Regions from separate parts of the Homo sapiens genome. Here region 1 is linked to region 2. Evidence: fine-mapped expression QTL. A gene starts in region 2. The other region holds a variant in brackets. All regions are shown on one strand. Distances are between the middles of the regions.

The links. PIP is the estimated chance that this variant, and not a neighbour inherited with it, causes the effect.
Region 1: its variant is the best candidate, but not a certain one, in a credible set for the expression of LRCH1 in whole blood (GTEx, PIP 0.85).

What each region holds. Positions count from the first base shown.
Region 1 is chr13:46,594,314-46,597,219 of GRCh38, forward strand. The region is part of intron 1 of LRCH1 (leucine rich repeats and calponin homology domain containing 1); the gene reads left to right. Among named protein-coding and RNA genes, the nearest start is that of LRCH1, 43 kb to the left of the region's middle. RefSeq lists a silencer at 1,074-1,123. The variant T/C (reference allele first, on the strand shown) is at 1,670.
Region 2 is chr13:46,551,746-46,554,651 of GRCh38, forward strand. LRCH1 (leucine rich repeats and calponin homology domain containing 1) reads left to right here and starts at 1,425. Exons shown (of 20, transcript NM_001164211.2): 1 at 1,425-1,958. The coding sequence starts at 1,652. RefSeq lists silencers at 1,369-1,558, 1,619-1,678 and enhancers at 1,882-2,582, 2,239-2,558.

The sequences.
Region 1 (2,906 bases), 43 kb after region 2:
AATAGCAAGTTATGTAAAAAATACTACTTGCTGATGAGGTTTGTAAGAACCTCCTAGAACCTTATAGAACAAGTGTGGAATACTTGTTTTCTGCTAAGGGCTATTGACCCCAAGAAAATTCAATGAAGCGATCTTTGCAAAATAGTAAATGATTTTTCTTTGTCTCCCTGCAGAAGCAAAGAGGCTTAGACCTCTAGCCACTGTTGAATGCACCAAATCAGGCCACCTCCTTGAGCTACACAGAATGTTTGCATTATAGGATAGGTGCCAAGTGCCCTGGAAGGTTGGTGGAGAGAGAGATGACTTCCAGCTGAGATTGTACAGTAGAATTTAATATTTAAAGTTTCTCGATTTGACGGGGCTGAATTAGTTCATATGAGTTCATAAGTAGGAACTGCTTCGCTTAATTTTGGTGAATAAAATATCCTGGCTGCAAAATACAAAAAAGAAAGTCACCCTCATTTTCAAATGTATGGTTAGTGCTTTCCATAGAAAACATATGGCTAAATGTGTGTGTTTTTTTAATTTAGCTCTGAAATGTGAAGACTGTAATAAGATCTAGTAACAAGAGCGCAGTTTAGAAAAACCTGATTGACTCTAGTTTATGTAACTATACAGGCTATATAAAGAAAGTCTCATAAATGAACTTCATCTAAAGAGTGTGGCAGCTATAACCTTCTCCAACTTTCAGGCTCTGGGTGTTCTCCTAGCTTCTTCTGAGTTTATAGTCTTTATGTAATTATTAATACCATGATGATCATTCTGGGGTTTGCTTTTTGCCCTGGTCACTTTAGGTTTAATTTTATTCCATTCCTGGTCATTTATAGTTTTGTTCTGTCATCTCCCCATACCCATCGAGAACCCTATTCTCCTGTGGCAGACTTTAATGAATGTAACCGCAGATTATGTGTTTTCTTTCTTTGGTGAACTTAGAGGATGCATAGGCCAGGTGCCAAGTGTTAGAAGAAACCATACCTTTCCTGATGGTGCTGCATGGCTAGCCTACCCCGACCATGCAGTAAGTGACTTCCTCACCGCTGATGTGGCAGACCTGCTCTGCATCTCCACAGGGTTTCTGGGTTCTTTTCCAGGCTGTTTCCATATTGCACACTCAGACTGGGTAGGAAAGCAGGCAGGGCACAGTTTTATATGTACGTCAGCATTTTCACTTGGTGATGGATATAAGCTAACTTTTGTAGCTCTCCTAGGTTTATTACTGACATCTGTTCCCCCCTGAGCATATCCAGCTGGGGCTGAAGCCACATCTGCACTTTAAACTTCCATCTACCTTTATGTTTTCAATGTAATTTTAGATTTCATTTGTTTTTAATTGTGAACTCAGAAGAGATGAGTTCCAGCTATGACTCAGTGTGAGTTCCTATGTCATAATTCTACATTTCTGGAGTGCTTACACCTGACAGGAATAAACTCAAGGAAACAAAAAGAACAGGAAAGGCCTTAGGCACATACTGGTTGTTCTAGATGTGGAGTTCTGCTGGCAACTGCCACAGAGTGAAATTGGCCACATGGAATCCAAAGCACGGCCTCACATTGTTTTTTTTTTTTTGAATATTTTATGTAAGACAGGGATGTTAAAGGTAGAGGAAGTAATTAAGAATGGCAGCTATGTCTTTAAAATTAAACACATCGGTCATAACTTTAATGAAGG[T/C]GTAAAAGTGTTTTTAGTTTTAAACAGGCAAAAAGGCTTTTAAATACAAGTAACCAGTTTTGAGACTTTAAAAAGCAGAAGTTTTTCATGCCAGTGCTTCCTATTTTAGTTTCAAAGGAAAGGAGGAGGAGCTGAGGTTTGGATGGTTATCATAGATGAGGGAGTTGACATGATCAAAAATGTTTTTTTCCCTGGGAACACATCTTGAGTGCTTATCTCTTCTAATAGATAAAGGGCTGGTGAATTTTGAATGTTTCCTGCAGCTCTGAAGAAACACTGTGATCCTAATGAACACCGAGGAAAGCTTGTATTGCAGCCCTAAATATTACCTGCTTCAAGGAGGCAGCATGTTTTGGTACAGTCTGATCATGACTATAAATCAAAGCATCTTTACTTCTCCAGGGAGATAAAAAAAATCATGTGTTACTTTATAAGGATCTTGTAGTTGCAGTATGTCTGTCAGATGTTTCCATTTTTATGATTTAAGACACTTGGTGCTGCTATGAATAGCAAATTGGAAAAATTGGGCATTTTTTAAATTTTGAATTTTATCTTAGCATATATCTGGAAATGAAATAGCGATCTTGGAACAGAGACATCTTTGTTAGAATATGAAAGAATGTCAGTGAATTCTAACTTGAAGCTACATTGAGATGACATGTTAAAGGCATGAATAGACAAAGGGAATGATTTTCAGGAAGTGCCTTCTGGAGACTGTGGGAAATCCCGTCATGGGTAGAGGAACAGCTTGCGATTGGATCAAAGTCACGCAAAGTTACGCAGGTGGTAGATGCTGGTAGTCAACATGGCTAGGTCCATGGCAATCGATCATTTGCCCAGCATTTTGCCTGCTGAATTTGGGGGAGTGAAGAGGACATTTTCACCACCCCAGGAAGATAGTAACTAGTGCTCTATGTATGTAGCTCAGAGCCCTTGAATTTTCAAGTGACCTTTTAAAAGTTTCCCCCAGAAAGGTTTGAATAGACTTCCTATCTATTACTCTAAGTTTAGGTCTAAGAAAATTCCCAAATGGGTTAATACAGTCGATCCTCAATCTTTGAGAATTCTGTATCTGTGAAATTGGCCTACTTGCTAAAATGTATTTGTAAGCCCCAAATCCATCCGTGAGGACTCTTTGTGGTCATTGGTGGATATGTACAGAGCAGCAAAAAAATTTGAGTAGCTCAAGGTACACGTACCCGGTGGAGGTTGAACAAGGTGACACTCTGCCTTCTTG
Region 2 (2,906 bases):
GTCAATTCAAGTGACACAGATCATGCCATACTTAAGTGCCGAGTCCATGAAGTCACCAGTTCCAGCCTGTTGTCTAGGCCATCAAACTTATGTATTACCACTTAAAAAACCAGCTCCCCTACTCCAAGGGTTGCATTACTTTCGTGCTTGACACCCCGACAACCCCGCACCCACCCCCCGACTCATTTTCCCCAAGCCAAGTCGCTCATAGGGGACAATCAAGCCTTAAGAATAGAGCAAAAATAAAGGCCCTGGAAAGTTGGACATGAAGCTTTAACTTCAGGAAAGGAATGGTATTCTATTAATCGTCCAGCTGGTCTGCCCTTAGGGTGTCAGATGTTCTCTGTCGCCCCTGGTGTGCCAGCATTGGCCTGGGTGCCACTGGGTGGCTGATGGCAGAATGTGAATTCACTTGCAAGCGGACATGTTCGTTTCCATGCCCCAAAGCGGGAAGAAGAAGGGCACAAGGAGACTTCGATGGTTCTTTCAGCTCAGACTCGAGCTGTGACTGATTTGCTGTTTGGGGTCACTGGCTTTCTAGCCTCTCCTGGCACCACCCAATTTCGGGGAGCAGCCAGCTCATCTTTCTCCTACGACAATGTCTTCTGTCCCCCATAAACACTGCCCTCATTTTGAGTTTTTCTTTCCTATGTCTGTAGCTTTCTTCTGCCGCTCAGCAAACACTCTGTCCCACTCGTATTCGTCCCTTGGCGCTGGCGTCTGGCCCAGGGGTACACTGTGAAGGAGGGCAACCCTAGATTCTGAGGGCCCTAGCTCGAATCTAGCGCCCCTCTAACTGCAGGGGTGACCTTAGATACATTTATTAACTTCCTCTGTAGACTCAGGGGAACAACTTTGGCACTCCTGGGGTCCCTGGATTAATGAGGTAACTTACGTAGACTCCCTAAACAAGCGTCTGGTTCATTGTAAGCGCCCAAATGCCAGGGGGCATCTGCAGGGATGACCCCATAGTGAATGAAAACTGCCTCTTGGGGATCTCTGGGTTAAACGGCCAGAATAAATCGCAGAATTGAGAGAACCCTCTCCTGCCCCAAACCTCACTGTACTGTAAATCCCATTCATTGCCTCCCGCCGTTTTATCCGTGTTCTCAGACCACCCCCCTATCCCCGCAACCTCCAGTCCCCTAAAGCCTCCTGGGCGGCAAAAGGACGCCCAGAGAGAGGTTCGGCGCCTCAGTTGCCCCGGAGCAGACGTCCAGCCCCGCCGTGTACCCGATTGCGGGGCGGATCGCGGCAAGGCGGCGGCGGCCGGCAGAATAGGCGCGGAGGAAGGCTCAGGCGGGGCAGACTGCGTGGGGGAAGGAGGAGGAGAGAGCAGACGGCGGAGGAGGGCAGAGCAGCCGGGGGGAGGGCGCAGGGGCGGGAGGAGACACATGCGCGCTGCCGCCGCCGCCGCCGCCGCCGCAGTCCTTAGCTTCCCGGGGACAGGAAACCTTCAAGACCGAGCTGCCACGGCCGCCTCCCCGCCCGCCCCCCATTCTACGCGCCTGCCCACACCCTCCTCCCCTCCTTCCAGCGCCTTTCGGTGGAGCACTGCGGCACTCAGCCCGAGCTGCCGTTTTCCCCTCGCGGGGAACGCTGTGACCCCCCCGCAGGAGCGGCGGGGCGGGGTGGGGGGGCCCGGGAGAAGATGGCGACGCCGGGAAGCGAACCCCAACCTTTCGTCCCGGCCCTTTCGGTAGCTACTCTGCACCCACTTCATCATCCCCACCACCACCACCACCACCATCAGCACCACGGAGGAACCGGCGCCCCCGGCGGGGCGGGTGGTGGCGGCGGTGGCAGCGGGGGCTTCAACCTGCCCTTGAACCGGGGTCTGGAGCGCGCGCTTGAGGAGGCGGCCAACTCCGGGGGGCTGAACCTGAGCGCCAGGAAATTGAAGGAATTTCCCCGTACCGCAGCCCCCGGGCACGACCTCTCGGACACGGTGCAGGCAGGTGAGTGAGGGCCGAGGGGCGGGCAGGGGTGTGGGTGCTGTCTGGGTGTCTGTCGTGCGTTCCCTAACGCGGTGGACAGTCGGAGATCTTGTCTTGCTGGGGGAGGGAGGGTCCATCGGCCCGTTGTCTCCCGAAGAAGGGACTCGCGTGGGCGCGGAAGAAGCGGGCCCTGGAGAGGGCACGGGGGCCCTGCCTGGTCCGGCGATGCAGTGCCAGGAGGGCAGGGGTGCGCCGGGCCTCTGCGCCTGAGAGCGAGGGGTCTCCGGCTCTCCACCCTGTGGCTGCCGCGCCAGGGAAGTAACCGCGGGGCTGGGACTTGCAGGCGCGCCGCGTGCGCGCAGTGTAAGTGGGAGGTTTCAGGCGGCTGTGTCGGCTTCCTGGGCCCCGCGCAGGGCTGGGAACTCCAGCGCGGACAGCGGCGTCGGCGCCTCCAACCAGTTCAAGCCGTCTTTGCATCGAGGCGTAGCCCATCCTGGTGGGGAAACCCAGACAAAGGTGGCACGCCCTCGGCCGAGCCAGGGGCATCGGCGCAGTGCCGCGAGCCCCCTCGGCGACATCGCCGAGCGATCGGGCAACTCGGTGCCGCCTGTGAGGTGCCCAAGTTTCCTCTCCCTGCGCTTGTGCGGGAAAAGAGCCGCCGGGCTTGTAGTGAATCCCAGTCGGCTGCCGCTTCGGAAGCGATCGGCCCTCTTCCTTCCGTGCCTTTTGCTCACCGCCCACACAGTTTGGGTCCTACCACCGAGGCTACCTGGTTCTCAGTTACCCAACCGTTGCGGGGGCCCCAGGAAAGGACGGCGTGGCATATTAAAGGCAAAGTAATTAACGTGAGCCTGTTTTCCTGTGTGAGCCCGGCAAGTTGTAACTCGCGCCAATAAGCAGCATAACTTTTTCAAGTTACGTCATGTGTTACATACTTCTAAAACGTCTGCTTTCTCTTTGGTAGTTGGA